Homo sapiens: one gene and its partners. The protein of the gene in region 2 interacts with the protein of the main gene of each other region in a pairwise test. Each region holds a gene or a part of one and is shown on either strand. Other genes may lie near its edges.

Region 1 (4,132 bases), on a different chromosome or scaffold from region 2:
CCTAGCACTTTGGGAGGCCAAGGCAGGTGGATCACCTGAGGTCAGGAGTTCGAGACCAGCCTGGCCAACATGGAGAAACCCCATCTCTACTAAAAATACAAAATTAGCCAGGCGTGGTGGCGCATGCCTGTAATCTCAGCTACTTGGAAGGGTGAGGCAGGAGAGTCGCTTGAACCTCAGAGGCGGAGGTTGCAGTGAGCCGATATCATGCCACTGTGCTCCAGCCCGGGCAACGAGAGCGAAACTCCGTCTCAAACACAAACAGACAAACAAAAACTATTCAGCATATCTTCAGTAAAATCTTCCTTAATCCTTTTTTAGGCTCCTATTTTCTGAGCACCTAATTGAGTGCCGGGCATCCCCTAAGCATTCACTGGATCTTCACACCCACCCTGTGATGTACACGTTTTTCTTCTGCCTGAAATGTCCTAAGCTGCCCCTCCGAGAGTCACTGCCTCAGGGAGGTCCTCACTTCCAGGGACAGCAGAGTATGACGGTTAAGCAGGGAAACTCTCCAGCTAGATGGCCTGGGTTCAAATCCTAGCTCTGTCCCTTCCAGCTGTGTAATACTGGTCGCGTTACTGAACCTCTCCATGCCTCAGTGTCCCCAACTATAAAAACGAGATGTCATAATAGTCACCTTACTGGGATGTTGTGATTAGATAAATTAATCCATGCCAGTGCCTGGTATAGAGTAATGGGGAGCTGTGTTTGCTCTGGAATGTCACGCTGAGAACCCGGGACTTAGGGACCATAGGAAGCCTGGGAGGCTTGGAGGGGAAAAGGAGAGGCATTTGAGAACCAGCTTAGGTCCCCAGTAGTGCCTCCTCTCTCCCCGTCCCATCCCGGTTGCTGCTTCCGTGTCCCTCCCGGGAGAATTATTTAGGGAGGGGGCGGGGTCATCATCCTGGCTCCGCCCCCTGGGTTGTGAAATCTACACCCGCCAGGCTCCAGAACCCCACCTACCACATACCACCTGTTCATGCTCTCCCATCAGGGACCACGAAGCCAGTCCTCAGCTGTGACGCTGAAGTTTGATCCCGCGGGGACACCATCGTATTAAAACGCTCAGAGACTGAGTCACAGAGAGGGGTGTGGCCGGCATTTTAGTTCCGCCCCTGCCGGAGTAGCCGAAGGCCTCATTGGCGCCTTCACGCTTCAGCTGCGCTTAGTAGCCGCGGCGTAATTGGATAAAAGCCCGTGGAGGGGGCGGGATCCCAGGGGGGTTTCTACGATTAGTCAATACCCAGGAGGGCGGGATAGAAAGGTGCAGATCTACGACCCGATTGGCTTCGGGCTCAGCTGGGAGGCGGGACGAATTATTGGTTGGGGGAAACCCACGAGGGGACGCGGCCGAGGAGGGTCGCTGTCCACCCGGGGGCGTGGGAGTGAGGTACCAGATTCAGCCCATTTGGCCCCGACGCCTCTGTTCTCGGAATCCGGGTGCTGCGGATTGAGGTCCCGGTTCCTAACGGTGGGATCGGTGTCCTCGGGATGAGATTTGGCGTTTCCTCGGGGCTTTGGTGGGATCGGTGTCCTCAGGATGAGATTTAGGGTTTCCTCGGGGCTTTCGGGATCTTCACCTAATATCCGGTATTATTTTATGAGAGGAGTGGTCTTGGCTGTCAGAACTGGATCCCTGGGGTGATATTTGGGAATTAGTGGAGTGATCTCTGAAGACCTAGGGCTATGATCTGGAGCTGCTGTGGCTGAAATTTGGGGCCTCTGAAGTGGCATGGAGATTGAGGTCCAGAGAGCCTGAGATCTTGAGGGCTGACATTTGGAGAGATGGGGTCGAGGGTTGTCTTTGGGCCTTGACTGCTTTGGGCCTTTCTCACTCTCATTCCCGGGATGCTTTGCCAGAATCTCTGCTGGATTGGCCGTAACCCTGTCCCCGAGCGGGCTCACAGGGTCTGAAGGCCACGCATGAGGCAAAGGTAAAGTTCTGAGCCACCCGGTGCCTCCTTCCCAGGACTGCAAGATGGAGGAAGGCGGGAACCTAGGAGGCCTGATTAAGATGGTCCATCTACTGGTCTTGTCAGGTGCCTGGGGCATGCAAATGTGGGTGACCTTCGTCTCAGGTAGGGACCCTCAGCTTGGATGTCATGGGTACCTGGGGTGGGGATGGAAATAAGAGGGGAACCGGGAAGTGCCCTAACACCCCTGTGGTCCCCATACCCTGCAGGCTTCCTGCTTTTCCGAAGCCTTCCCCGACATACCTTCGGACTAGTGCAGAGCAAACTCTTCCCCTTCTACTTCCACATCTCCATGGGCTGTGCCTTCATCAACCTCTGCATCTTGGCTTCACAGCATGCTTGGGCTCAGCTCACATTCTGGGAGGCCAGCCAGGTACGTGGGTTTGAGTGCCACTGCCCTCTGGAGACTTGTTCCCAGGACCTCAGTCAGCGCCTATGGCTACACCTTTTCCAGGGGGGGAAAAAAAAAGGCTAGGCATGGTGGCTCACGCCTGTAATCCCAACACTTTGGGAGGCCGAGGTGGGCGGATCACGAGGTCAGGAGTTCAAGACCAGCCTGACCAACATGGTGAAACCCCGTCTCTACTAAAAATACAAAAAAATTAGCCAGGCGTGGTGGTGTGCACCTGTAATTCCAGCTACTCAGGAGGCTGAGGCAGGAGAATTGCTTGAACCGAGGAGGCAGAGGTTGCAGTGAGCCGAGATCATGCCATTGCACTCCAGCCAGGGCGACAAAGCAAGACTCCATCTCAAAAAAAAAAAAAAAAAGGAAAGGAAAGGAGAGGAGAGGAAAGGAGAGGGGAGGGAAGAGGAAGGGAGGGGAGGGGAGCCCCTTCTTCCTGGTAGATACAAAGCTGGGCTCTGGATACCCTTGAGCAGTGCACAGCCTGTACAACAGTCCCCAGCAGCCCTGTCTATCCCCCAGCATCTCCCTGCTAGCTGCTGTTCCCTCTCCTCCCGCTGGCTGGGCCTGCTGCCAAGCTGTGGTGACTCAGCTGAGCTGGCACATTGACCCCAGCTTATTGTTTAAAAACCAGCCCGACTGGGAATTTATGGTTTCCTATCCCCTTCCACACATTTTTCTGGCCACAAGGCAAGAAACTATCTCTGCATCTCAGATTTCTCTATTTACTCTGGCCTTCCCTTGCCTGCATTATGTTTCATAGACGTGGGTAAGTGAGACCTGACAGGTGTTTCAAGAATAATCTCACAGACAGGAGGGGATTATGGGTAACTAGAACTTCACAGACTGTTTTTTTTTCCTTTTATTTATTTATTTTAATGAAACAGGCTCAGAAGGTATTCAAATACTTAAAACAGATAGAGATGGTGTTATAGCAATGTGAGAATGGCAAAAACATTTTTCCTAATTAAAAAAAATAGGCTGGGCGCAGTGGCTCATGCCTGTAATCCCAGCACTTTGGGAGGCTGAGGTGGGTGGATCACGAGGTCAGGAGCGCGAGACCATCCTGGCTAACATGGTGAAACCCCGTCTCTACTAAAAATACAAAAATTAGCTGGGTGTGGTGGTGTGCGCCTGTAATCCCAGCTATTTGGGAGGCTGAGGCAGGAGAATTGCTTGAACCCAGGAGGCGGAGATTGCAGTGGGCCAAGGTCACGCCATTGCACTCCAGCCTGGGCAACAAGAGTGAAACTCAGTCTCAAAAAAAAAAAAAAAAAAAAAGATGAGGGTCTTTGCTGTGTTGTTCAGGCTGGTCTTGAACTCCTGGCTTCAAGTGATGCTCCCACCCCCATCTCTGAAAGCACCGGGATTACAGATTACAGGCATGAGCCACCATGCCTGCCTTCAAAGACTTTTTGTTTTGTTTTGTTTGTTTTTGAGACAGGGTCTTGCTCTGTCGCCCAGGCTGCAGTGCAGTGGTGCAATCTTGGCTCACTGCAACCTCTCCTTCCCGGGTTCAAGCAATCCTCATGCCTCAGCCTCCTGAGTAGCTGGGATTACAGGGGGACAGCCCCCACACCTGGCTAATTTTTGTATTTTTAGTAGAGACGGGGTTTTGCCCATGTTGCCCAGGCTGTCCTTGAACTCCTGGCCTCAAGTGATCCACTCACCTCAGCCTCCCAAAGTGCTGGGACTATAGGCATGAGCCACTGCGCCCAGCCACTCAAAGACTTTTTATTCACCCTCTGTGGGT
Region 2 (4,182 bases):
ATCCACCCGCCTCGGCCTCCCAAAGTGCTGGGATTACAGGCGTGAGCCACCGCTCCCGGCCTAATTCTTTTTTGAGATGGAGTTTCGCTCTTGTTGCCCAGGCTGGAGTGCAGTGGTGCGATCTCGGCTTACTGCAGCCCCCCACCTCCCAGTTCAAGCGATTATCCCGCCTCAGCCTCCTGAGTGCACCACCACGCCCGGCTAATGTTTTGTATTTTTAGTAGAGACAGGGTTTTGCCATGTTAGCCAGGCTGGTCTCGAACTTCTGGACTCGGGTGATTTGCCCACCTCGGCCTCCCGAAGTGCTTGGGATTACAGGCATGAGCCACCGGGCCCGGCCTATCCTTGAGGTTTTATGATCTGCCTGTCACTTGGACTGTCACTGCCTTCCTACACGTCAGCCCTTACCAAATCCTCCCATCTACTTTCCTTCAGTATCTGGCTACCTACCACTCTCTTCAGACTGACATTTCTAATTTGTCTCCTCCCTGACTTGGTGTCACCAAGAACTCAAATCCCTATTGGGACTCAGGTGGTCTTGTAGCTGCCCTTTGCCCCCAGGATCTGAAAAAAACAGCCCTGCAGACTGAAGCCGGAAAACTTGATATAAACTTGAAAGAACTCAGAACCACAACAGATTCTCCAGGGGCAGCCTTTGTGCCTGGAGCTGCTGCTACACAGGCCGCCCAGGAAGACCCCCCCTCCAGCTCCTGCATGCCACATGCTCTCTCCAGAAAGTAACCACAACTGGGATACCAATGCCTATGCCATCATCACAGACTTCACACCACACACCAGGAAGTCCCTGAGTGCCCCTGCTGGCCTTGTTAGGGCCCAACGGCCAGAAACCTCAACTGCTGCCCTGTAGGCTCAAAAACTGGGTTTATCAACAGCTCCATTCATCTTTGTTTTTATTTCTTTCTTTCTTTTTATTTTTTTATTTTATTATTATTTTTTTTTTTTAAAGATAGGGGCTCTCTGTTGCTCAGGCTGGAGTATAGAGGCAAGATCATGGCTCATGGCAGCCTCCGCCTCCCAGGCTCAAACGATCTTTTCACCTCAGCCTCCCAAGTAGCTGGAACTATAGGCCCATGCCACCACGCCGGGCTAATTTTTAAATTTTTTGTAGAGATGGGGTCTTTATGTTGCCCAGGCTTGTTTCAAACTCCTGGCCTCAAGTGATCCTCCTCGGCCTCCAAAAGTGCTGGGATTACAGACATGAGCCACTGTGCCTGGCCTGTTATTTTTGTTTCCTCATTAAATGCTTGACTGCTTGCATCATCCAGCAAAAATCCTTTGCTACCAAGTCTCAACAGATGGTCCCGCTGGTAGTTTATGAACACAACACAGAACAGAAAATGGACGGGGACTGTTGAGAGGAAAGAAGCAGGTCTCTGCTCTTCTTGCACAGGGGGAGTGCTGACAAAGACCCTCCCTCCCCACACTCCAGCCAGGCTCCTTAGAGTCCCCTTCTCCACTGGGCCTCACCCTGGCCTATCTAGGCTGGAACGAACACTAACATAGCTCCTAACAGCTCAAGGCCACATTCCCAGAACGATCCTAGCCCCCTCTAAAGTGCCTGCCTGAGAAGTTCAAGGCTGCCACAAGAATTTCCTGTGTGTTCCAGCCAACACCTGAGGATGGGGCCCCTGTCTCCCAGTCTCTGTGGGAGGTTGGGGGCCTGACTTCGGTAAGCCCCAGTGGCAAACCCAGATCAGTTGGTTTCACAGGGGCCAACCCTCCCTTCCCAGTTTTGGTGATTTTCTGTTTCCCTAACTCTACTGAGTCCCCACCCCTTCCCACTCCCTCACTCTCCCTTTAAACTCCAGGCACATCTAGACAAATCAGCATGGAGCCAGCTTTTTCTCATGTTGTCAGTAGTTACCAAGTAAAATCTGTTTTTTCTGCATTAACTAGTGTCTCACTGGGCTCTGCAGGGCAGCTCCTACGGTCCCTCAGGCTTGGAGGGTCACTTTAAACAATAAAAAGCAACAGGACACAAAAATCCCTGGCTGGAAAAATCCAAAAAGCAGGTCTGTTAGCAGGGCAGGCCCGGAGTGACTTCCCCTTTCTCTAACATTCCCACGTGGTCCTGCACACCACACATCCCCCCGACCCTGGGGAGTCCTGGGCCCCTTCCTGGTGGAGCAGCCTCTCTCTTGCAGGGAAAGGCCCTGGGGTACCCCAAGGCCTCCAACAGGGAGCCTGTTGGAGAAGTCACCAAGGCCCTCTGAGTCTGGGGCTCCACAGACCCTCCCCCAGGCCTCCTGCAACTCTCCAGCTCTGAGAGTCTGATCCCAGCCCAAGGACCAAGTGGGACCCTCCCCTGTGACTCTACCACACCCTCACCAGGTCAAGCCCTACTCCAGGGAGAGGCTTATCCTCCTGGTCTGGACCCCCAACCCAGTCTTGAAGCGGGATCTCTCACCGCTATCTGGAGCCCCTCATCACAGCACAGATCTTCAACCTCAGCTTTCCACAAGGAGTCTGGGGACCCCACCCCGGTCCAAAGATCCCCACCCAAGGTCCGAATTCCCCAGTTCCCATCCAGATTCCCCACCCCAAGTCCGGAGACTCCCACCCAACGTCAGATCACTTCACAGCGGTCCGAATTCCCCACACCCTATCCCAGTGTTCCACCCTAGGTCTGAAGGCCCCCGCCCCGAATCCGGCCGCATTCGGCCCCGGTCTAGCCAGCGCTCTCACCTCTCCCGCGACGGCCCGCCCGGGACTGGACCCGCCCCGGTCCGGCGCAGGCAGCGCGGCGGGCAGCCCTAGCTGCCCCAGAAGCCCCACGACGATGGCGGCAATGGCGGTGGCGCTGCGGGGATTAGGAGGGCGCTTCCGGTGGCGGACGCAGGCCGTGGCGGGCGGGGTGCGGGGCGCGGCGCGGGGCGCAGCAGGTAGGATGGGGTCGGGGCGTCCCCGCGGTAGGTGTCCGCGCGGCCGGGGTGTCCTCGTGAGGGTGTCCGCGCGGCGGTGGCCAGGGTGTCCCCGTGGGGGTGCCCACGCGGGGGTGTCCACATACCGGCCTCTTGGTCTAGTCTTGCTCAGGAGTCCGGGCTGCTTCTAGCCACAAGTAGCCCCCTTCCCAGGTGGGGAAACTGGGGCTGGGTGCCTTGTCTAAGGTCCTGCTGTGCTGACTGCACCTGTGGTCTCCCAGAGCTGGTATCCCAGTAACAACTACAGTTCTGAAGATGATGATATCCCACCTCCCGAGGTCACCAGGCACCGGCCCCACTGGCCAGACTTCCCAACTTCTCCCCAGACCCCTAGACTCTAGAGGTTAGAGGCTGCACAGAGCAATGGGAGGATACACACTCGTCCTCCTGGAGCCCCTGAAGAACAGTTAACTAAATCAGGACAATAATCATAACTGAGCACTCGAAGCAGAGGCTGGGTGTCTGGTCACTCAGGACAGTTCAAGCCTCATCCTGTAGGACAGACTCCCCTAGATCCGACCAGAGCGCCACCATATCTGTTATGTGTGGCCAGTTTCATTCCATGCACGACAACATGGTCCCCCACCATGCAGGGGGCCCCTCGACCCAGCCCCCTGGATGCTTGTGACAGCGAGCAGCTCTCCCCACAGGCAGTGAGTGTAGAGGGGTGTAAGGACGGGGTCAGGGCTCCTTCCCAGGGATGGCGGCTATGGGAGGCATGGTGGCTGGCCCTCTGCCCGCGGTGGACTCGGGAGGGAGGGCTGACTGTGTGTGTGAATGGGCAGAGTTGGTGCTATGGAGGTTTTGGGGGTCTCCAGGACGGAGGGTGGCCCAACAGAGTTCTGGGAGGCAGTCACCACCTCGTGGCCTTGCTGAGACCTGGAACCCTCAGCCAGGGCACTCCATCTTTCAAAGCTTCTTGGCTGCATGCGTCAGGTGGGCAAGCTCAGGAAGGTTAAATGCACCCGTGCTGGCGGAGTCCCATAAAAGGGGATTCGGCATCAAAAGGAGGAAAAAGGTTCAAAGGGCATTTATCATGGGGTTCAGAATCACGGATGTGAGGGGCGGTAGTGGGGACAACAGACAGAAAAGCTTCCCCTTCCCATACTCACAGTCCAGACACGGCAATAGCCAAATTCCAAATTTCTAGGTATTCTGGACTCAGAATGGGGAATATCATACGAGACTTAGGGGGATAATGCCCTTATCTTCCTATTTTAAGGGAAAGAACAAACTGAAC
Region 3 (3,500 bases), on a different chromosome or scaffold from region 2:
AATTCCCACTCGCCCATGCTGTATTAGGAGTTGAGCCCAAACTCTCTCCCTCACTGTAGGACCCTGTTGCAGTGGTCCCTATGCCCAAGGCAATGTTCCTGAATAAAGACTTCCTTACCGTGTTTTCACAAGTGTCACTGAATTTTTTTTTTAACAAGAAAAAGCTATAAAATGTGTCATTTTGACTCAGGAACTCCATTTCTAGGGCTCACTTCTAGGAAATAATAAAAGAAGAACACACAAAAAAAGTATGCACTAGGTTGTTCATTGCAGTATTGTTTATAAACTGCCTAAATGTTTCATAATTGAGGATTGTTAAGGGAACATGGTACAGGCACACCAAAGATAGAATAATAGTGAGTGATGAAAACTCGGGTGGGCATTTATTTCTACCATAACAAAAAAAAAGTAGGAGGCAAGACCCTTGTTTAAGGACTAAAGAGCCACTGACAATAACAGGGTACAGCCTAGTGCCCAGATCTTTTAATGTCTATATTCGATATCTGACTTATCTGTCGATTTCATCTGCTATGAGTTTCTAGAATCTGAACAGCTCTTGAAATACTTTGCTGCTTAATTATGGAGCAAAGTAGGGTCCTGTAGGAGAGAGAGACTCAGTAGAAAGCCATGGAAGGGGGAGAAATACAGCTAGCATTTGATCAACCTTTTCACCAGAAGTTTTTATACCCAAGATTATAAACATTATTCTCTCTGTATTTATGGATGCAAACTACAGCCCTGGGGAGCCCCAGTCTTGGTTCTTTGGGGGTGATCTTGGGCAAATCCTGTTTCTCTCAGCCTTTTTGTTAATAAATAAAAAGCATTATTTCATTTTTTAATCCCTAGGACTATTGGAATAAAAGATTTAAATTAGAATAAACATTTATCTACTTAGGTATAGTATGCTTTTAAAACTTTTAAAAATTAAATTTAAAAAGAATCCTTAATAACATGAGAAAAATACTTACGATATAATGTTGAGAAAAAACAGAAAGTCAGAACAGACAATTATAAATATAGGATAATTGTGTGGGGGTAAAAAAAAATGCACTGAAAATATCAGGAAGGAAGGGCACCCAGGTGTTGGCAGTGATTTTCTCTGGTTAGTTATGAACACTTCTTTTTTATATATATACTTTTTTATTTCCTAAATTTTCTATCACAAGTGTAATAGAAATAATAAGGGTGGGGGGAAAAGGTCCTTGGAGGTGGGGAGAAAAAAGTACATATGCCACCCACATCATCAACACACACCCAACAAGTTAACTAGTATTTACTTAGTACCCACCAAAACCCAGCTCAGCCACAGTCTCTGTAGCAGGGAAATTAAGGGCCAAGCCCCACCCTGAAGGCTCACATATGTAGAATATATATACTTTGCTTGGCAAATAAGCTTGGCTCTGATGATATTCTTATTGAGGTTGGAAAATAACAGGACTGTTTGCTTAGCCAGCTCAGCAGAATAAACGAATCCACTCCCACTGGTGCGACCCCTTCACTGGAGTTCCCTGCGAGGCTCCATGGCTTAAAGCCTTTCTGGATCACTCTTGGGAAGAGTCAATTTCAGGGATACTTTATAGCCCAGGAAGAAAACTGTTCTCATCCCTTAACCCAGGCACTGAATGCAAGAGGTGAAGAGGCTCCCCATGAGGCAGAGCAAGCAAGGGAGGAGGGAGGAGCAGGAGGGCCTGGGAAGGAACCTGACAGGCTGTGTGTGGGCCCTGGGGACCCCTGGGCAAAGGAGCTCACGTCTCCAGGCCTGAGTTTCCTCACTGGTAAAATGGGTCACATAATGACAACCCCAGGACTATTGTGAGACTCAAAGAAGAGAACGTAAGTCCTTTCATTTTTCTAAACTGAGCCTCAGTTTCCTCATCTGTAAAATGGAGTCACTATCTCTCCCCTCGTAGATCTGTTAAAAGATTAAAGCAGATAGTGAAAGCAAAAGGTGAACATACATAGTAAGTGTGTTACATATGGTGGCCCTTATTATTGTTGCTTGTAGAGCAGGGAATGGGATACATCAACAAATCCTAGGCCTCAACTCCCTTATCTGCAAAATGGGGCAATCAATTCAGTCCGAAAAGATTAAATTCAAGAACAGTAGCTGAATCACCAGTTGCACCACTGCGGGCTCACTTTGTGTCTCAGACATGCCGGACCCAAGTACATGTGGGGAGCACAAAGCCCTCCAACTCAGAGGCCATCAGAGCTGGGAAGGCTGACATTATGCTGTCCACCCTACAGTGCAGAATGGACACTGGGGCCCAGAGAAAGGCATGCATTAGCCCAAGTCACCCAGTACTTTGTCACTGGCAAAGCCAGGACCCAAGCCCAGGCCTTCAGCTGCCTACCCTTGCCCACAACACCCACTGCTTTTCTCTGCCCTATTCTTAAATTGCTGATGTGGTCCCAGGCAGGGCAGACGAGAGCAGGCATATGGCAGGGGAGGGACAGAGGGAAGGGGAAGCTGGCCAGCAGCAGGAACTGAGCCTGCCTGTGGTCTCCAACTTCACAAACCACATCAGGCTGAAATATGACACACGCTCACTCCGTTGAAAGCGAGGAGATATTTTTACTTAACATCCCCCGGCTGCCTAAACACTGGTCTCTTTTTTTCCCTTCCTCCCCAAAATGCATAACCCCTGGGACGTGCTTTTCTCTGCTTCTGCTGGCATTTTCTCAGGGAATAACCAAGGAGCAGGAGAGTGTCCAGTTTTCCTGGCTTCGCCAGATAGATTTCCAGAGCATAAGCTTGATTGATGAAAAGGGGGGACCAGTCCTGGCTGGGCTCTCACCTCACCACATGACCTTGCTGGGCAAGTCCTGTGTCCTTTTGGAGCCTGGATTCCCTGAAATGGAGGGGAGATTGACCTGCACTGAGGGTCCTGCGGATGGCACAGGAAAGCATGAGTTTACAAACAGCCCCGGGAGGCCCCTCCAGGCCTCTCTGCTGCAGGGCTGAGCTCTCCAAGCTCTGCACACCGACACCCACCCCTCATAAAAGCATAACAAACTCCCTTACCAGTTCTCCTAATACCAGGACTAGAAAGAATTTTCAAGAGAATGTTTAGTGCTGTCATTAATAGCTATGGCTCTGTCGTCAGACCTCTGGAATCCTTGCACCATCACCCAATAGCCACACAACCCGGGGCATGTTATTCAGCCTCGGACTCAGTTTCCTCATCTGTAAAAGAAGATACTAGTATCTACCTCAGAGGAATGGTTGCAAGGAATCAATAAAGTAATTAATGTTCCAGTGCTTGGTATATTAAAAGATAGCTTTTTTTGTCTTTTCTTTTTTTGTTTTGAGACAGTATTGTTCTGTCATCCAGGCTGGAGTGCAGTGGCGTGATTTCAGCTTACTGTAACCTCCGTCTCCAGGGTTTAAGCAATTCTCATACCTCAGCCTCCCAAGTAGCTAGGATTACAGGAGCATCCCAGCACGTATTTTCAGTAGAGACAGGGTTTCACCATGTTGACCAGGCTGGTCTCAAACT
Region 4 (3,500 bases), on a different chromosome or scaffold from region 2:
CAGCTTTTTCACCTTTGTTAAGTTTAGCTGAAAGCTGCCTCCTTACATATTTTAAATTCCACTTAAAGATTTCTCCATATGTAGTGAAACGTAACCTAACTGGATGTGTAAATAGACTGTAACCTACTTTTGTACCATTCACTGAGTTTCAGCCAATCAAAGGCAGCCAACTGTCCAACCCTTGTTCAAATAAGGAAAATGTAGAGCTGTAACTAATCAAGCTGTTTCTGTACCTTGCTTCTATTTCCTGTATGTCACTTGCCTTTTTCTGCCCATAAATCTTCTTCGACCATGAGGCTGCCCCAGAAACTCTGAATCAGTTCTGGTTCAAGAGGCTGCCTGATTCACAAATTGTTCTTTGCTCAATTAAACACTGTTAAATTTAATTTGTTTAAGGTTTTCCTTTTAATGCCTTCAAGACACAGATTCTGGTTACATACCTAGATACGTGACTGGTATAAAGTACCTAAATGGCCAGGAACTCTGTGGGTACCTCTAACACGGCTGGGAAGAACACTGGTCCATAAAGGAAAGGTGTGCATGTGCAGGAATGAATGCGAGCATGGTCTGTGCTGGCCAGATGCCCCTCAGGCTCACCCAAGTCTTCCTGCAATTGCACCGGGAATATTACTTTCTTCCACTCCCAGCTGACAGCCCAGCTCCCCTGCTATACTGGGAGTCTTCCTCACTGGGAACACAAAATTAATTGCTATACAATAAGTATTCATTCATCTATAAAAATGAATAAGGACCTCTGTCCAGATTCTAAAAGAAAATACTCCTTTAGGAGATAAAAATAGAAATAGTGAAGAATAATGCTTACAAGCTTGATTCAGGATGCAGACAAGCTCTGGGTTTGAATCCTAGCTCCAATATTTTTTAGTTGTGTGACCTTCAGCAAAGTTGCTTACCCCTTTGAGCCTTTATTTCCTATCTGGAGGAAGAGGTAATAAAGTGTCTACCAAATGAGTTACTGTGAATGACAAATAAGTTCAGGTATGTTAGGTAATTGGATGAGTACCTGGCATATACTAAGTGTTTAATAAACACAGCTATTAACAGTAGCTCTGGTATCATTAATAAATGAACTTTGCTGTCCTCCGCACCCTCTTTCGACTTTGGGGGGAACTCCACGTTCATGGTGAAATCTAAATTAATATGCTGCCAACAGGTTTCCTTAGCCAAGTACATGGAGAACAAAAGCCTGATTAGGTTAGGACAAGGATGATGTTAAAAGATTAAAATGGGCCAACCTAATTGTCCAGGTTGATAAAACTACTCCTAGCTTAAAGATTTTCAAGCCAGGTTCCCAGCAGCCCTGCAGATAAATGTTTCCTATTCATATTTTTGTCCTAGAGTCGGTTAAATTCAACAATCATTTGAGTAAGTATTCCTTAGCAGGCATTCTGTTAAACACTAAAGATTCAGAAACATATAAGACACTTGCTTTTTTTTTTTAAGAGGCAAGGTTTTGTTGGGCACGGTGGCCCACACGTGTAACCCCAACACTTCGGGAGGCTGAGGCAGGAGGATTGCTTGAGCCCAGGAGTTCAAGATAGCCTGGGCAACATAGGGAGACCCTGTCTCTAAAAAAAATTAAAAATAATTTTAAAAATTATTAAGCTACTTGGGAGGCTGAGGTGGGAGAATTGCTTTCGAGGCTGCAGTGAGCTATGATTGCACCACTGTACTCCAGCCTGGTTAACAGAGTGAGATCTTGTCTCCAAAAAAAAAAAAAAAAAAAAAAAATGAAGATGAGGTCTTGCTCTGTTGCCTAGGCTGGCTTGAAACTCCTGGGCTAAAATGATCAAGGAGATGGGACTACAGGTATCCACCACCACACCTGGCTCAATTTTTCTCATAGTTCAATTTTTTTTTACGGACACAATCTTTGATCTAGGAAATAACAGTTTAGTCATTATGCTTTTACCTAAGAAAACTCCCAGAATCAGCTCCCCTACTTCATCTTCTCCTCAAAGCCTTCAAGATGCTTCTTAATCTAGTTCTTAGTAAGAACCTCTCTCTCCTGGCTTCCCACCATTCACATAACTTTGCCCTACTTTAGCTCTTTCACAACTAAACCATGTCATTAATTTTGAATGTTCTCTGTTTAGTACATATGCATCTCATCCTCCCAATCAGGATATAAGGAACTCTCTGGCATAAGTCTTCTATTAATTCATTGTATATTTCCATAACACCTACCATTCTGTTATCCTTGCTTTCAATCATCCATGTTGATTGTGAATGAAATTTTACAAAACATGTAGTTTAAATTATCCCTCTTAGTCAGTAAGGTATGAGAGAGATAGATTTAGGGCAAATGTAACTTTGCCACAGTCCCTGAAAAAAAAAAAAAGATCTGGGGGCCGGGCACGGTGGCTCATGCCTGTAATCCCAGCACTGATAGGCCGAGGTGGGAGGATTTCTTGAGCCCAGGAGTTGGAGACCAGCCTGGGCGATACAGTGAGACCCTGTTTCTACAAGAAAAAATTTAAAATAGCTAGGTGTCGTGGTGTATGCCTGTGGTCACAGCTACTGAGGAAGCTGAGGTGGAAGGATCGCTTGAGCCCAGGAGTTTGAGGCTGCAGCGATGCAGTGAGCACGCCACAGCACTCCAGCCTAGGCAACACAGCGAGACACTGTCTCAGAAAAAAAAGAAAGAAAGAAAGAAAGATGGGACAAATTCTACTTTTCCATAACATGTCTCCTGATTCACTTAGAAAACTTCCTTTCTCTTTTTGACTTTTTTTTTTTTTTTTTGAGATGGAGTCTCACTCTGTCACCCAGACTGGAGTGCAGTGGCGCAACCTTGGCTCACTGCAACCTCTGCCTTCTGGGTTCAAGCAATTCTCCTGCCTCAGCCTCACGAGTAGCTGGGACTACAGGCATGCGCCACGACGCCCGGCTAATTTTTTGTATTTTTTAGTAGAGACGAGGTTTCACCGTGTTAGCCAGGATGGTCTTGATCTCCTGACCTCGTGATCCGCCCGCCTTGGCCTCCCAAAGTGCTGGGATTACAGGTGTGAGCCACCGCACCCGGCCCTTTTTTTGCCTTTTAGTTCTCTTTTTTTCTGCAGTGTTGACATTGGACACCAGATCCCTGAAATCTACACAGAAAATGCCATTTCTATTTTTGCATTTGGTCTTGAAAACACTTGAATCACGATCATCCACTGAGAAACTTCTCCAGAAGAGGAAAGGGCAGTTCCTCAGCACATCTGTGACTCAACAGCAACTCGGGAGGGGAAGCAGAATGGATTTTGTCCCCTGTTATCATCTTAAAGGGGAAATTTGTTTCTAGCTTAAGTTGGGGTAGAATAGTGCCTATTAACTCTACAAGGATTCTCATGTTTTGCAAAAATATCCCAATTTCTCTGAAATCACATATTTGGAATCTCTTTTCATCACAGAACACCAGAATTGCCATTCTAGTTACTGTAATGCCACCATGGGGAGCTTTGAGATTATTCTCCCATTGAAGTACCATCCATAAGGTT

Evidence for each region. Proteins that work in one complex are often made in the same cells at the same time.
Region 1: the proteins of COMT (region 2) and TMEM205 interact in binary tests that used the Homo sapiens proteins (3 or more experiments, as listed by UniProt).
Region 3: the proteins of COMT (region 2) and GSN interact in binary tests that used the Homo sapiens proteins (3 or more experiments, as listed by UniProt).
Region 4: the proteins of COMT (region 2) and SLC7A8 interact in binary tests that used the Homo sapiens proteins (3 or more experiments, as listed by UniProt).

The regions. Positions count from the first base shown.
Region 1 is NC_000019.10:11,343,469-11,347,600, reverse strand, and holds the start of TMEM205 (transmembrane protein 205), read left to right. Parts: upstream 1-1,332; 5' UTR 1,333-1,981; coding exon 1,982-2,081; intron 2,082-2,185; coding exon 2,186-2,349; intron 2,350-4,132. Other genes in the region: CCDC159 (coiled-coil domain-containing protein 159), read right to left, coding at 974-984. UniProt on the Homo sapiens protein: In cancer cells, plays a role in resistance to the chemotherapeutic agent cisplatin.
Region 2 is NC_000022.11:19,940,422-19,944,603, reverse strand, and holds the start of COMT (catechol O-methyltransferase), read right to left. Parts: upstream 2,801-4,182; 5' UTR 2,707-2,800; intron 1-2,706. Other genes in the region: TXNRD2 (thioredoxin reductase 2, mitochondrial isoform 5 precursor), read left to right, coding at 2,801-2,903. UniProt on the Homo sapiens protein: Catalyzes the O-methylation, and thereby the inactivation, of catecholamine neurotransmitters and catechol hormones. Also shortens the biological half-lives of certain neuroactive drugs, like L-DOPA, alpha-methyl DOPA and isoproterenol.
Region 3 is NC_000009.12:121,271,162-121,274,661, reverse strand, and holds part of GSN (gelsolin), read right to left. Parts: intron 2,853-3,500; exon of another isoform or gene 2,799-2,852; intron 1-2,798. UniProt on the Homo sapiens protein: Calcium-regulated, actin-modulating protein that binds to the plus (or barbed) ends of actin monomers or filaments, preventing monomer exchange (end-blocking or capping).
Region 4 is NC_000014.9:23,177,161-23,180,660, forward strand, and holds part of SLC7A8 (large neutral amino acids transporter small subunit 2), read right to left. Parts: intron 1-3,500. UniProt on the Homo sapiens protein: Associates with SLC3A2 to form a functional heterodimeric complex that translocates small and large neutral amino acids with broad specificity and a stoichiometry of 1:1.